Regions from separate parts of the Homo sapiens genome. Here region 1 is linked to region 2. Evidence: fine-mapped expression QTL. A gene starts in region 2. The other region holds a variant in brackets. All regions are shown on one strand. Distances are from middle to middle.

Region 1 (8,000 bases), 61 kb after region 2:
GCATGCCACCACACCTGGCTAATTTTTGTACTTTTTGTAGAGACAGGGGTCTCGCTATGTTGCCCAGGCTGGTCTTGAACTCCTGGGCTCAAGCGATCCTCCTGCCTCAGCCTCCCAAAGTGCTGGGATTACAGTGAGCCACTGCACCTGGCCCTAAACCTTCATTTTTAAAACACATTTCCTCTTAAATTGAAGATTGCCTACATTTTTATATCAATGCCAATTGTTGAGTGTGCCTATATGTGTTATATTATTTGAGCACTAAATGCCAGATGTGTGCCAAGTGAGATAAATCTGACAAATGAGATGGTTTGTAAAACCAGCAGTGAATATTCACTTCCTCTGTGAGAGAGCTCCAGCCCTCCTGTACTCACTTCCTCACACAGCACAGCAGCACTCTTGCTGGTTCTGCTGCTTATCTTGAAGAGGTTAGGTTACTTTTTGTTTCTACTTATTACTTCGAAACCACTTCTGCCTTAGAAATTTTGTAACCTTCCGCTCAGTTTCCGGTAACCGCCATTTTGTCTCCTGTAACAATTTACGCGCCGTGTAACTGTGAATCTTTCAAAGGTATGTTTTACTGGAGTGATTTCTGGTTATTTCAGAAGGATAATTTGTGTGTTGCGTCATTAATGAAATAGTAGTACGAAAAACCTATAGCATCTTTTACTGCAGGAGGTAACTTTCCATGCCATTTTTTCAGAAAATCTACTTATGACTTCAGTGGCTTGCTAGACTGGCCTTTTTATTTGTACTTTTCCTGTGTTTCAGAATTGCAGAGTATAATAAAGGCATGTCAAGTGCATATTGTGTCCATTTTCAGGTATATTAGATAAGCTTTACACCAAGATAAATTAGATATGCTTATTGGTTTAATTTGTGCTAATATATATTTAATTGAAAAATCAAAAAAATTTTTTTAAATTGACTGAAGTTGTATTCCAAAACATGCAAAATTTAGTTTAAAATAGATTGGATACACTTTTAAATTTTAAACAAGGTAGAGGGTTTAGTGCTTTGCTTTTTTAAAAAGTAAATGAAGGCTGCAGCTTTCTGCAGTAGTTGTCTTGGGAAGTAGTGTGGACATCACTCCTAAGAGACGTTAAGGAAGTTTAGCTAACAGGCTTTAACCCTTTCTCTCCATACCAGCTTTTACTCTTTTTTTTTTTTTTTTGAGATGGAGTTTAGCTCTTGTCACGCAGGCTGGAGTGCAATGGCACCATCTCGGCTCATCGCAACCTCTGCCTCCTAGTTCAAGCAATTCTCCTGTAGTTCAAGCAATTCTCCTGCCTCAGCCTCCCGAGTAGCTGGGATTACAGGCATGCACCATCACATCTGGCTAATTTTGTATTTTGAGTAGAGACGGGGTTTCTCCATGTTGGTAGGGCTGGTCTCTAACTCCTGACCTCAGGTGATCCGCCCGCCTAGGCCTCCCAAAGTGCTGGGATTACGAGCATGAGCCACCATGCCCGGCCACCAGCTTTTACTTTAATGCCACAGCCTTAAATTTTCTTTCAGGAGAAATTATTTTATGTAAAGTTACAAAGGAAAATAATGCTTAATATCTGTAAGCATTCGTTTGGTAAGTTTGCTGCCTCCTCAGTAAGTTTTGATGAAAGTGAATTTTGATGAATTACTACCTTAGCCGGGTAGTGACGTTAACATGTGGCTTAGCTGTCCATTTTCTAAGATATCAAGAAACCAGCAACAATAAGTAAAATTGTTAAATTATGCAAGAATCACATGTTCCTACCTGTCATCATTTAGTCTTGGTTCTATTTGCATGTGAATATCCTTTAGAATATATTACTCCCAGTTATTCCGCTTTACTTTTCTGAATCTCTTTTCCCATCTCTTGACTTCAACTTCAGTATATGGCTCTTGTTCCTTCTACCTGGAGAACGGAGGCATGTGGAAGCCCAGAGGATTGAATTCTTTTTTTTTTCTTTTCTTTCTTTTCTTTTTTTTTTTTTAGATGAATAGTCTGCTTAGGAAATCCATCTCCATAATGTTTACCTGGTATCGTGTTGTAATGTCAGAATGAAGTGGCTGTTCTTCCCCTTGAGTCATCGTCCCGAATGAAGGTTCCCCAAAAGAAATCATCAACTTATGTGGTGATTTCCTTTTACCTTTAAAAAAAAATTTCTTTTCATGGAAAGATAATGGAACATGTCGGTAAGATTCATTTCTAGGAAGGCAAAGGAGTAGTTTATCATCTAAAGACTCTCAACCTAAAGCTGTTTTAGAAAACTTTCCTTAAAATGAGAAGCCGTAGGTTTTCGTTGCATTATTTTGGCTAATTGAAAAATAAGACCAAGTGCGTTCTGACCTTCGTTTCTCTTACCTTTATTTTTACAACCACCATTTCAATGGCCCACTTGCTGATACAAATGATTGTTTAATTTTAAAAAGCATTTAATTGAAGTCAAGTTATTTAGAACCTAATCATTTACACGTCTTTGTTGTTGCTGCTGTTTTGCAAGAGTGAAGAGCTTGGAGTCAGGTGAATCTGGGATGAGGTACAGTTGTCATTTATTAGTCATGTAATTTGTGACAAGCCACTTAATCTCTCTGAAGACTTCAGTTTCTTCATTTGTAAAATTGGCATAATAATGCTGTCCCTAGTAGGGAATATAGAATTATATAATGGGTCCTTTGTATATATTGGCTAGTATTGCTCTCTTACGATTTGGCACTATGGAGACACTGTGGGAGATTAAAAGAAGATGATGAATAAAAGGTGACTTCAGCTCTGAAGGGCTTTATGATCCATTTGGGAGAACAGGTAATGTAGAATATACTGGCTTCAAAAGTGGCAGGTGTTTAGAAGAGAAAAGGATACATGATGTGATAGGAGGCAAAGGCTTGATTGAGAAGGCTGAGAAGACTTAGAGTAAGGGTTCTCAGCCCTGACTGGACATTAAAATTATCTAGGGACAATTCAATCAGAATTCCTGGGGGTGGGGACCAAGCATCAGTATTTTAAAGTTCCCTGGGGACTTTAACTTGAAGCCCAGGTTGAGAATCATTTAAACAGCTCTGTTATTTATTTATTTAAAATTTTAATGTATTTTTTGAGATGGAGTCTCGCTCTGTCACCCAGGCTGGAGTGCAGTGGCGCAATCTTGGCTCACTGCAACTCCTGCCTCCCAGGTCCAAGCTATTCTCCTGCCTCAGCCTCCCCAGTAGCTAGGAATACAGGCGTGCACCACCACAACTGGCTAATTTTTGTACTTTTAGTAGAGACAGGGTTTCACCATGTTGGCCAGGCTGGTCACAAACTCCTGACCTCAAGTGATCCACCCACCTCGGCCTCCCAAAGTGCTGGGATTACAGGCATGAGCCACTGGGCCCGGCCTAGTTTTACTTTTTTTTTTTGTAATGGAATTTCCCTCTGTCACCCAGGCTGGAGTGCAGTGATGTGATTTCTGCTCTCTGCAACCTCTGCCTCCTGCGTTCAAGTGATTCTCCTGACTTAGCATCCTGAGTAGCTGGGATTACAGGCAGCTGCCGCCATGTCTGGCTAATTTTTGTATTTTTAGTAAAGACGGGGTTTCGCCATGTTGGCCAGGCTGGTCTTGAACTTCTGACCTCAGGTGATCCGCCCGCCTCGGCCTCCCAAAGTGCTGGGATTACAGGCTTGAGCCACTGCGCTCGGCCCATTTAAAAAAACTTTAAAGGTAGACGTATTCCAAATGGGGGGAATATATAAAGAAAGGTAACACTTATTTTGCCCTGTGTGCTTTGAATTTCAGAAGGTGTAGTAAGCAAAGACCACTTACTAACCCTACAGATATATCCTTAGAAAATACAGTGGTTTCTGTCATAAATCTGATAAATCAGATGAGAGGAAGGGTGTATGTTTGATGTTGATTTTTCTTTTTGTTTTATTGGGGTTTTTAAAAACTATAAATATCAGGTCTGATGACTATGTGTATAAACATTTTCTAAGTAGATAAAATATTTTCAAATTTTGCATTTTTTAGTATGAAGGGGATCCATCATTTGAAGTTGGTTTTCTAGATGTGATGATAAACTTGTCCCAGGTCTATTTGACACTCCTACCAAAATCCTTTGTGACCAGGGCTAGAAGGCAGCTGTGGCTAGTAAATAACCCTGTGTGTAGACTCACTTATTGGCTTTGGCATTCTCTATTGCCACAGCTGTGTGAATAGATTAACCAGAGACCCTCTG[G/C]TGCCAGCCACCTATTCAGGCAAACAAGTCTATAATCAGTACCTCTGTTAAAATGAAACTGTAATATACTATTGTCTTTTCATTTATTTATTTATTTATTTAGAGACAGGGCCTTGCTCTGTCGCCCAGGCTGGAGTGCAGTGGTACAATCTTGGCTCACTACAACCTCCGCCTCCCAGGCTCAAGCGATTCTCCTGCCTCAGCCTCCCAAGTAACTGGGACCACAGGCGCACCATTGCGCCTGGCTAATTTTTGTATTTTTTTTGTAGAGACGGAGTTTCTCCATGTTGTCCAGGCTGGTCTTGAACTCCTGAGCTTCAGTGATCTGCCTGCCTTGGCCTCCCAAAGTGCTGGGATTACAGGTATGAGTCATTACACCCGGCCTATTTTCTGATTGTTCAAAGTAGAAGCCAGGCACAATGGCTCATGGCTGTATGTAATCCCAACAATTTGGGAGGCAGAGGCAGGAGGATAGCTTGAAGCCAAGAGTTCGAGGCCAGCCTAGGCAACATAGTGAGAACTCATCTCTACAACAAAGTTAAAAAGAAAAATTAGCCAGGCATGGTGGCACATGCCTTTAGTCCCAGCTACTTGCGAGGCTGAGGCAGAAGGATCACTTGAACTCAGGAGTTGGAGGCTGCAGTGAGCCATGATTGAGCCACAGTACTCTAGCCTGGGCAACAGAGTGAGACCCTGTCTCAGAAAAGAAAAGAGAAGAGAGGAGAAGAGAAAGAGAGAAGAGAAGAGAAGAGAAGAGAAGAGAAGACATACAAAAGAAGAGTAACATACAAGAGAAGAGTTAGGAGACCCTGTCTCAGAGGAAAGGAGGGGAGGGGAGGCGAGAGGACAAGAGAAGAAAGAGTTAGGATCTATGCCCTAAGGAAGTAAGGAGGATTTGAGACTGTGTAGGTGGTTAATAACCTTAAGCTACATATTTTATGGAGGGAAAAATCCTATTTTTAAAAGTGAGAATAGAACAATTTTGAAGTGAAATGGAATGAATTAGCTGGACCATAACGGCTCTGACTGAAGAAAAGGATGTAAAAAGCCACATCCTGGATATGTACCAAACACCATGGTTACATGGCATGTTTGTATATGTAACATTTATTTAAAAAAAAAGTCTCATAGCTTAGAAGGCATTTATTTTTGTTATGTGTATAGGCTTCTGTGCAATAAAGCAGCCTTTTTTATTTTACAGCTCATGATGACTTAAATGGTTAATTGCCTGATAAATATGGTCCTCTTTTATTCTTCTGATTCTGTTGTTCTTTTGCACTTCATCTTTCAAGGGGTTGGGCTATTCTTAGGTTTCACTGATTGCACTGGAAGGGACATGACGGAAAATGAAGATCTCAAGATAATTTTCTTGCAAATTCACAATGGAAGATAAAAGGAAAGAGTGGCAGGCATTCTGCACACAGAGCAGACGTTTCTTTATTGTCATTGTTCAGCAGAGGAATCAACTCAGCCTTGGTGAAACTAGAGTGATGCCCATGGTGGCATGTCAGCATCTCCCTCTTAGTGGCATCAGTGCTAGATTGTTGTTGTTGGAAGCAGGAGAGTGTTTAGTCCATAAAGTACAGAACTTCGATATCACAGAAGCTAGAAGAACTTTACTGCCTTCAGCTTCGTTTAAAGATAGTAGAGAGCTTACTCATTCGTTTTAGAAATATGTATTGGGTCTCTATGTCAGGAACTGCTGGCACAGCAGTGAGATTGAAGATACAACAGTGAATACAATAGAGGGCCTATCCTCATAGAGTTTGCCTTTCAGAATGAGGGACAGACGCAGACAAATAGAAAATGTCGATTGTGTCAGGGAGTATTGAGGGCTTTGAAGAATGAAATCGTGACCCAGAAGAGATGCTTTTAGATTGGATCATCCGTGAAGGCCTCTATCTAGAAAGGAGACACTTGGGCAGAATTCTGAATGAACTTGACGGACATCTGAAGGAAAAATATTCCAGTCAGAAGGAACAGTACGTGCAAAGTCCCCAAAACTTCAATAAGTGACGTGCTCCAGAAGCAGCAAGGAAGCAGAATGAGGCCTGAACAGAGTGGGCAGTAGGAAATGCAGTCATAGAGAAAGCAGGGCTGGGTCACAGGCCTCAGAGACTGTAGAACATTGGCTCCTACTCTAAGACAGGAAGCTGCTGTGAGCATTGAGGTTGGGCGTGGAACCATTTGACTTTTTATGAGGATCACTCTGGCTGCAGTGTGGAAAATAGACTGGACGAGGGAGGGCAGTTAGGAAGATGTCACGGTAACTCAGGAAAGCAATACCGGTGCTTTGGACGAGGGTGGTGGCAGAAGAGAAAGTGAGAAGTATTCTGGATATATTTCAGAAGAAAGTGGATAGGATTTTCTGATGGGTGATATGTAGAGTGTAGGAGAAAGAGAAGAAGCAAGATTGACTTTAATGTTTTCCACCTGGGCAATTGGTGGACTGGAATTGCCACTTGCAGAAGTGTGGAGGTATGGAAGGTATGGGAAGAGCAGATTGCCAGGAAAGTTGAGTTAGTTTTGAACTCATTGTGTTTGAGAGGTCTGTTAAATTATCAAGTAGTGATGTTGAGGTGTAATTGGAAAAGTCAACCTGGAATTTATGGCAGAAGTTGAGGCTGCAGATATAAACTTGTAATTTTAAAAATGTATATTTAAAGCCATGGGAGTGAATGAGTTCATTTGAGATTGAATGCAGATTGAGAAGAGATTTAGAATTGAACTCCAGGGCACTGCATAGCAGGAGGAAAACCTAGTAAAAGTGGTATCTGTAAAATAGAGGAACGAACTGTCACAATTTGCCTGGTACTGAGGATTTTCTCAGTACATGAGACTTTAAGAGACTGGGACACCCTGAGACAATTGGTTGCCTTCCATGGGAAGAAAGTATGTCAAGAGGGAGAGAGTGAACAACTGTGTCCAATAAACCAGGACTGAGCAAAAACCATTGAATTTGGCATCATGAAGTCTTAGGTGACTTTGACAAGGCTTGTCTGTTGTGAACAGCCAAGTAAATGTGAGGACCACTCTCCAAAAGGTAAAGAAACATGCATGAGGATACAGGTGCGCCAGCTGGAGACATCATGCCTCTTCCCCGTCCCCACCAGGAGTGGCGTGAAGCCTCCCCAGTGCTGTAACGAGGCAGCCAGGTCCTGTGTGACTGCACATGTGACTTGGGGCAAGTCATTTAACCTCTCTGTTTTCACTATCCTATTTGTGAAATATTGTTTAGATTTGTGGTTTGAGTCAGCTATCTGTATACTACACTGTGTTAGGAGCTATGTAGATTAATTTTCAACAGATATGGTTCTGGGGTTGTAGGAATTTTCAATTTGAGAACAAATTGAATCTTACCCTTTGTCAGGAGAAATAGCCTTTGACATGTGTTAGGGGCAAGGGAAATCTCAAACTTGCTTAATTTTAAAAATGAATATTTGGTTGTGGATAATTTAAGCTTTGGTGATATTTCTAATTATTTTTTGTGTGTTTCTAGTCTACTGACCAGAAGTCTGAAAAAAACAACTAAAAAGAAAGACTGCATAAGCCTTCACTAGAGAAGTATTGAAAATTGCTTGAGGGAAGTGACGGTTTCTTTAGCCTAGTGTCTGTAGGACCCCAGTGTAGTGTTTGTTGAATGAATGAAAGGAGGCGTATCAGTCAGGTTCACTCAGAGAAACAGAAGCTGTAGGAAATCCATATGGATGTGTGTGAAGGTATTGGCTTGCCTACTGCTGGTGTGTGGCTAAGCGAGCTTAAAAGTCCGCAGGGCAGATAGTCAGGAAGGAAATATTCCCAACAGA
Region 2 (8,000 bases):
CATCTAGTGATAGAAACAGATGAGATAGGAGAAAGAAGAGGCTACAGGCAGTGAAGCCATTTAAAATCTTATTTTTGTTATCTAGGTATTAATTTATAAGGGCTGGACCGGAATGAAAGCCACTGTGAGAACAGTGATATTTACAAAGAAGTGATATTTATAAGAAATAAATGGCAGACCTTGGTAGGTGATTAGATCTGAAGGACACAGGAGGAAAAAAAGTTAGAGCTGACGTATTTCTAAAGTTCAGAGAGAGGCAAGCAGATGGAGTCATTCCAAGATACAGGCCTCTGTGATCCAAAGACCGTGTGACTTACTCGGGATTACACAATTAGCAAAAAGCTGAAGCCAGAACCCAGATTTCCTGCTTTTCCCTCCACTGGATGACTCCAAAGTTTTAAACCTGGAAAATGAGGAAGTAGTGTGCCACCACCGACCCCCCAAAAAATGTGTGATTATGGAGAGATAGCTAGCTTCCAGTTAAGTAGGGTAGATGGAGAATTTTAGTTTTATACTGGAGTTTGAAGATGTTAGAGTACAGAAATCTGGGAAATAGGCAAAACTTTAGGATAGGAAATGGCTCTGCCCTTACTAGTTTGTAATCTTGGTCAAGTCACTTAACTTCTCTAAGCCTCAGTTTCTCCAGTTGCAAAGAGGTATGTGTGGGGGGGTTAATGTTATTATTTAATGGTTGCTATGAATTAATTTTTATAAAGGACTTGGAGCAGTACCCGGTACAAGATAAGTGTTATTTAGTTGTTTGTTCAATAAAATAGGTAAGATGCAATGTAGAGAAAGAGGTCGGCTTTCTGGGGAGGTAAGAAGAAGATGTGGGGAAAACTAGAGCATTTAGGATAATTGATGTATGGTCTGAGATAGAAGTCAAGGGAAGAGTTGTATAAAGGTGAAAAACAAAATTGAATGACACAAAGATACGGAGAAAGAGGAAGGCCAAGAGAGACCATCAGATGCGGAAAGAAGGAGGCCTCCCAGAGTTCTCTCTGGACAGAGGGCTGATGGAAAACGAAAGAGGCAGTGAGAATAAGGAAGAAAGGCACTTGGATGGCTATTTGCCAGCAATATGTGAATGTATCTAACAGCAGATCAAACTTGAAAACAGGCATTTGACTAAATTAATGGATAACACATTCATGGTGAATTGTTAAAAGAGTGTTAAGGAAATCTGGAGACAATTCTAACCATCAAGAAATTGACAGCACAGAGGATAATAATGCTGGCCTAACCTTCATGGTTAGGTACCAAATACTAAATCTATTGCAGTATGATCTGAGGCAAGATGGAAGGTTTTATGATTCCCACATTCACCCAAAAAGTTTCCTTGATTGCAAATGCTGAAAATCTGAGATGCTTTCATTACATTTTATTTATGTTTGTGTGAAACCAGTATATTTTTGTTCTATATGAAAATGTATGTCATAAACATTCAGAAATTCAGAGGAGTTCATCCGAAAGGCTGACATGGTACACCGTGGACCGAAGCCTCTGGGGCAAAATGTTTTCTATGTATCATTCGTTGAGTCTCAGTTTGAAGAAGTACTTACACATTTGTTCTCTTTGTATTTTGCTATCCAAATGTTTGCTCATAAATTCCAATGTAGTAAATAAGGACAGTTTTGAAAGTCAGAAACTCTAAATTTCAAAAAAGCTTTATTTTTCTTTGGGTTTGTTTTCGTATGTAGTCTATTGTAGTCTATGCAGTGAACTTTGTCTTATATGCTTAAAAGGGCACTGATATTTGGTGGGCATTGGGGGGCGGGGAGTTACCTAACCAGTACTGAAAAGTTACTAAACTACCTGACACAGCTGAAACCAGGAAGGAAGGCTGTATCAGGAAGAGACTGAATATAGTCCTTAGGTGGATTTTAGTATTAGGTGACAAATTAGGTTGTATTGGACTGGCACTGTCCAATAGGAATATAATGAGGCTCACAAATGTGAGCCACATGTGTAATTTTACATTTTTAAAAATGCAAACCACATTTTTAAAAGGGGAAAACAAACAGGTGAAATTAACTTTAATAATATATTTTTTATATCCAAAGTATCATTTAACATGCAATCAACATGAAAATCATTAACAAGACATTTTACACGATGTTTTCTGCGCTGTCTTTAAATTCCAGTGTACATTTTACACATCCAGCAGTGGGCAATTCAGACTAACCATAATGCCGAGTGGTCAATAGCCACATGTGGCTAGTGGCTATCATATTAAATAGTGCAGGTTTGAACCAAAAATACTTCGCTTTGGTTGTTTTTTTTTTTTTCTTTTAGACGGAGACTTGCTCTGTCGCCAGGCTGGAGTGCAGTGGCAGATCTCGGTTCACTGCAAGCTCCGCCTCCCGGGTTCAAGTGATTCCCCTGCCTCAGCCTCCCAAGTAGCTGGGACTAAGGCGTGCGCCACCACGCCCGGCTAATTTTTTGTATTTTAGTAGAGACGGGGTTTCACCACGTTGGCCAGGATGGTCTCGATCTCCTGACCTCGTGATGCGCCCGCCTCGGCCTCCCAAAGTGCTGGGATCACAGGCGTGAGCCACCGCGCCCGGCCTGCTTTGGTATTTTTTAAGAGCAAGTTGGTAAATGGAGGCATTATATGGAGAGTGCTCGAGTATATATAGCACAGGTTAGAGCAGCACGCCGGCACCTTGAAGCGAACACGGGCTCCTCCACTCCCGTCAACACTGGGACTTTTCTGTTTTTATCTTGAGTTTGAGGCCGGGCTTCTTAGCAGACCTCAGTCTGAAACTGAAATAAACCTGGACGCAGCGTACCCTTGAATCGCAAGAACGCCGCCTTCAGTGTTTCTCCGGAGAAAAGCATTCACGCCAGGTTGTGACGAAAACATTTTTTGAGAACTCATAATGTTTATTCCTTGGATGAATCCATTATATTTATTTAGTGTCTCAGGAAGGATGATGGGCATATTGCTTGCAAAAGTTGATTTGAATCCTGATAGATTCCACTAACTTTTTTGTCTTTTTTTTTGGCTGCCTTCTTCGAGAATGGTGTCAACCCTTAATAACACCTAGCCTTACGAATCCCTGGGGTGATTCCCGACCTCGCCAGCTTTGTGGGGCTCCCCCGACTTGCCTACATTCCCTGGCAGCCTCGCAGCTTCGGGCAGATGGAGCTTCCGGCCTGCGCGCAGTGGTCGCCTGTCGTCCGCCCGCGCTCCCTTCGGCCGGAGGTCGGCGGCCCCGGGCAGAGCGCGCCGTCTGCCCCAGTATCGGGAGGCCAGTTCCGCGCTGGGCCCACGCCCTCCTCGCCCGCCGCTGCCTGCGCGCCAGGCCGGGTGGCGGAGCCGGCCGTCGCTGCTCCGAGCTCGGACCCTCCCCCGGGGTGATTTCGGCTTAGAAGGTGGAAATGCGGAAGTTTCCAGCGCCGACCGACAGACGAGGTTTGCGCTTGGCTGGGCATGTTCCGCGGCTACTCTGCGGCGCGCCAGGCCCCCGCTTTCCGCACCCCGCGACCCTAGAAGCCACCGAACCGCCGGCGGGCCATGGCCACTCTGCCGAGCGCAGAGCGCCGCGCGTTCGCGCTCAAGATCAACAGGTAAGACGCCCCCCGCGGCGCGCAGGTTGCGGCCGGACAGCCCAGCGCTGGTGTGAAGCGGAGCTTCGCTGCAGGGGCCGAGGCCGGACGAGTCCATTCGCGTCCGCGGCGGGGCGCGCCTGAGACCTGGGGCGCCCGGTTCCCGAGGCTGCGGCGGTGGAGCCGCTGGACGCGCGGCGGCTCCTGCGCTGGGCCCGGCGAGGTCCTCCCCAAGAATCTCGGTGCTCCTGGATGTCCTCAGCCGCCGGGGATCCCTTCCCCGAACAACCTCGCCCGCTCCGCCCTCCAGGTTCTTACAGGTGGCCGGGTCCCAGAAGGGTGATAGGCGCCTGGGTAACCGTGTTGGGCGCGCCACGGAGTGTCTCATAAACGGCTCCTTCCTTTGAGGCAAGTCTGAGCGCGGGGGGAAGAAGTGAAGTGGCTGAAATTAGAGTTGCGTTTGAGGCAGGCTGCAAGCCTTCTGTCGTCCTGAGCAAGGCTCCGTCCTCGCCTGCTTCATTATTCCAGAAAGAGCTTGGCTCCTGGTGGCATCGCTATTTTTATACCCTGGTCCAAAGGAGCCATGAAGTGGAAAAAGTGATTTTTTAAAAAATCTACACTTAAATAAACCAAAAGAAATGGCCTGTGGCTGACATTTTGAGATTTACAGAACTCCAGCAAAAAGCTAAGGACTGGGGGATCCCAACTCACCATCCAATTCCTAATCAAAGTTGCACAAACTAAATATGTAAGCACATTTACTGCTCAAAGTTCTCAGTAAAGGTGCTTTAACTGCAGTTTTTCCTCCACTAAAAACTGCTGACAAGTAATTGGGACATTTTTGTCTTGCCCTGAGAAAGCTAGACTGTCTAGTTAAAAGATAATAGGAAACTCATTCTAAAGTGTCAACTTATTCTATTGCCCACAGGGCTGTCCGATTTGTTAATCTTCACTTAGCTGAGCCTGTGAAAGGTGGATTCCACCGTAGGTTCATCTTTGTGCTGTTAGTGTGTGAAGAGGTTTGAACAAGGAATTAAAAGCCTAGAAAAACAAGGCGATAAGGTCTTCTAGAGGGCATATCGAGCTTTATTGACGATTTTATTTCCACTTGATACGTGACTGCCAGCAAACTGTTTCTCTTACCTTACTATTTCGTCATCTGTAAAATGAGTTTAATTATTTATGTATATTGCATATTAATGTTGGAGGCCAAAAGGTACTAGTCAAAAGGCATAAAGAGGCTGGGTGCCATGGCTCACACCTCTAATCCCAGCAATTTGGGAGGCCCAGATGGGAGGATTACTTGAGCCCAGAGTTTGAGACCAGCCTGGGCAACATAGTGGGACCCCTGTGGCTACAAAAAAATAATTTTAAAACATTAGCCAGGTGTGGTTGCATGCACCTGTAGCCCCAGCTATTCAAGAGGCTGAGACAAGAGCATCGCTTGAGCCCAGGAGGATCACAGCTGTGATCATGCCACTGCATTCCAGCCTGGGTGAGAGAGTGAAACCTTGTCTCAAAAAACAGACAAAAAAAAAAAAAAAAAAGCAAAAACAAGGCATGAAGTATATCAGGGATCTCCCTATGGGAATTTTTTTCTACATTAAGGTTCATAGCTGTTGCATGCCAGGAGGGGTAATTCATTCAAGGAGTATAGGGAATCAAACTGAAGTTACTGATGGGTGTATTATTTGCTATAGCTCCTGATCCTCTGTCTTTGTGAATTTTAGATCAGGAAGTGTGACTGGGGCAGAAAGATGTTAGAAACTATGGGGTTGGGCAGGGTTGATCTGGGGTGAGTGGCCGAGACCCGGACTAATCCTACAGGCAGTCTTGCAAGCAACTGCGGGGTCGGTGTCACCTGGGGGTTAAGAATAAAGGCCCTGGTTAGTGTCTGATCTGCTTGCAAATTGGCTCTCTGCTACAAAGTCACTGTGCAACATTGGACATGTTACTTAACTTCTCTAAGCTTTGGTTTCTTTATGTGCCAAGTAGAGTTGATCATAGTACCTACTTCTTATGACTGTGGGGAGGATTAAATGAATAATAGGTACAAAGTCCGAATTGCCAAGTGCTGGATGTGTAACATACACATTGGAATTTAGAGACAGTACAGAAAAAATAATGCAAAATGTCTTGTTAATGATTTTCATGTTGATTGCATGTTGCTTGTAGTGTCTGGCTCAGAATAAATGGTGAATAATTCTTAGTTGCCATCATTAACATTACAATCAGCTTCACTGCTGTCATTATCTCCATCATCACCATCTTTGAGAGCCTAAGATAGAAAGGTAGGAAGGAAAGCTGAAGTTGGAGAGCTTCAGGCAGAGATCAGTTTGGGTTAGGTATGGAGATGCCAGTGGCTGGCTGGGAGCTTTCTTGGGGCCAGTGTTTCTCCGCCTGTGCCTTCCATCTGGTGCTGAGAACCCAAAACACATTCAATGGAAGAAAATATGTGATGAAATCTGATCAAGAAGAGCCCCCTCAAGTTTAATAAAGTATAAAAGGTTCTATAATCCTCAGGCAAGAAAATGGATTGGAAATTCGTATTCTTAGAGTTCTGTTTTCCTTTTTGAAGCACTCTGTGTGTTGTGTGGGAGAGTTATGCTAAGGAGCTTGGCAGAAATTATTATTCAAAGGAGCAGATTAATAAGGACATACCTAGTATTCATATATCATTTAATTTCACCATTTATTGTTTACTTATTGTGTCCCAGACACTATATTATACAGTTAATGGATTTTATGATTAAATTCTCACAAAAAGCCTATCAAACTCATGAAGTCTTGTACAGAAGAGGAAAAGGAATCTTGGAGATACAGCTGCACAAGGCCATGTAATTTTTTCAAGACCATACAACCAGCAATGGCAGAGCTGGGATTGCAAACTGCTCCAAAGACTGTGCTCTTAATTGGGCCGATTGTTATTTTGATGCATATGTATCCCAAGAATTTCCTTTAAAGCAAGAGGGGAATTAATTTTTAAAAAATCATCATTTTGGTAGCAGCATTGGCAAAGTGTTCTGTTTCTGATTAGTGTTTAATATATAAACATTAACAATGTGATGTTTTGCAATGTTGAAGGTGGAAAAGAAATGTTTTCCCTTACGTGCCTACCTATTATTTTTTTTAAATAGGTCAAATTCCAAAAGTAAGACTGTGTTGAAATATGGCCATTAGTACATTCAGCATGTGCTCATGTTTTTCACCTTACTACTCAGAATAGTGTAAACTATCTCTTAAAAATATTTGTGGGATAAAACCAGTGTGCTTCCTGTTAATGAAGTATTCAAATCTGATATATTAAAAATATTATTTGTAAAGCGTTCAGTTCTGACCACACCAGTCTCCAGAAGGAGTGAGCAGACTATCTCACAGTCTGAGAAGAAAGGTGAAATTAATTTTCTTGTAAGTGCTATATACTTGTCTTCATTTCCATTTTTTTGTTGCTGACTTGCGTGCCAAGGAAAGACTAGATCTAAGTTAGGCAGTTCGTAATAACATTTGCGTTTGGGATTTCAGGTGCTGCTGCATTAAATGTCATAACATGGTACTTGTGGGAACATCTAGTCTTGTTAATTGCCTTTTTTCTTACTGGAATTTAGTGCCTTTGTAGATTATAAAAATTATTACTAGTACTCTGAAAATTTATTAAACAAAATCTTAGTGTCTTTCAAATACAGAATAGATGTAAAATTTGATCAAATATTAAAGTAAAATAAGAACCTTGGATAAAGAGGACGAAAGTGTAGAATGCAGAAAAAAACATTAACCCTCTTGTGGACAGTCAGGATTGAAAGGAAGAAAAAATAATGGCTTACACTTCTAGAATGCTTTCTATGTGGCAGAGACAGTTCTAAATATTTACATATCGTAACTCATTCACCTCTATGAGATAGGAGCAATGACTATCTCCGTTTTACAGATGGAGAAACTGAGTGCAGAGAAGATATAGAAATTGTCCAAACTCACAAACAACTAATTAAGGTCACAGCTGAGATTCAAATGCAGGCAGCCTGGCTCCAGAGTCTTCTCTTTTAATCATTATACCATGCTGCCATCTCAGTTTTATTTTAAAATAATAATAGGTAACATTTATTAATTATTTACTATGTGCTACATATTGTGCTAAGAACTTTATATACCTTCATTTCGTCCTTTCAGAAAAGGAACAAACAGAGCTGGGTGCACTGGCTCACGCCTGTAATCTCAGCATTTTGGGAGGCCAAGGCGGGACGATCACCTGAGGTCAGGAGTTCAAGACCGGCCTGGCCAACATGGCGAAACCCCGTCTCTACTAAAAAATACAAAAATTAGCCAGGTGTAGTGGTGTGCACCTGTAATCCCAGCTACTTAGGAGGCTGAGGTGGGATAATTGCTTGAACCTGGGAGGTGGAGGCTACAGTGAGCTGAGATGTGCCACTGCATTCCAGCCTGGGCGACAGAGT

Evidence for each region. PIP is the estimated chance that this variant, and not a neighbour inherited with it, causes the effect.
Region 1: its variant is fine-mapped to the expression of DOCK8 in whole blood (TwinsUK, PIP 0.95).

The regions. Positions count from the first base shown.
Region 1 is chr9:272,531-280,530 of GRCh38, forward strand. All of the region lies in intron 2 of DOCK8 (dedicator of cytokinesis 8), which reads left to right. Among named protein-coding and RNA genes, the nearest start is that of DOCK8-AS1, 61 kb to the left of the region's middle. The variant G/C (reference allele first, on the strand shown) is at 4,195.
Region 2 is chr9:211,457-219,456 of GRCh38, forward strand. It overlaps DOCK8 (dedicator of cytokinesis 8), which reads left to right and starts at 3,409. Exons shown (of 48, transcript NM_203447.4): 1 at 3,409-3,573. The coding sequence starts at 3,521. It overlaps DOCK8-AS1 (DOCK8 antisense RNA 1), which reads right to left and starts at 4,294. Exons shown (of 1, transcript NR_160804.1): 1 at 2,001-4,294. RefSeq lists silencers at 3,164-3,413, 3,424-3,473, 3,524-3,573, 3,744-3,883.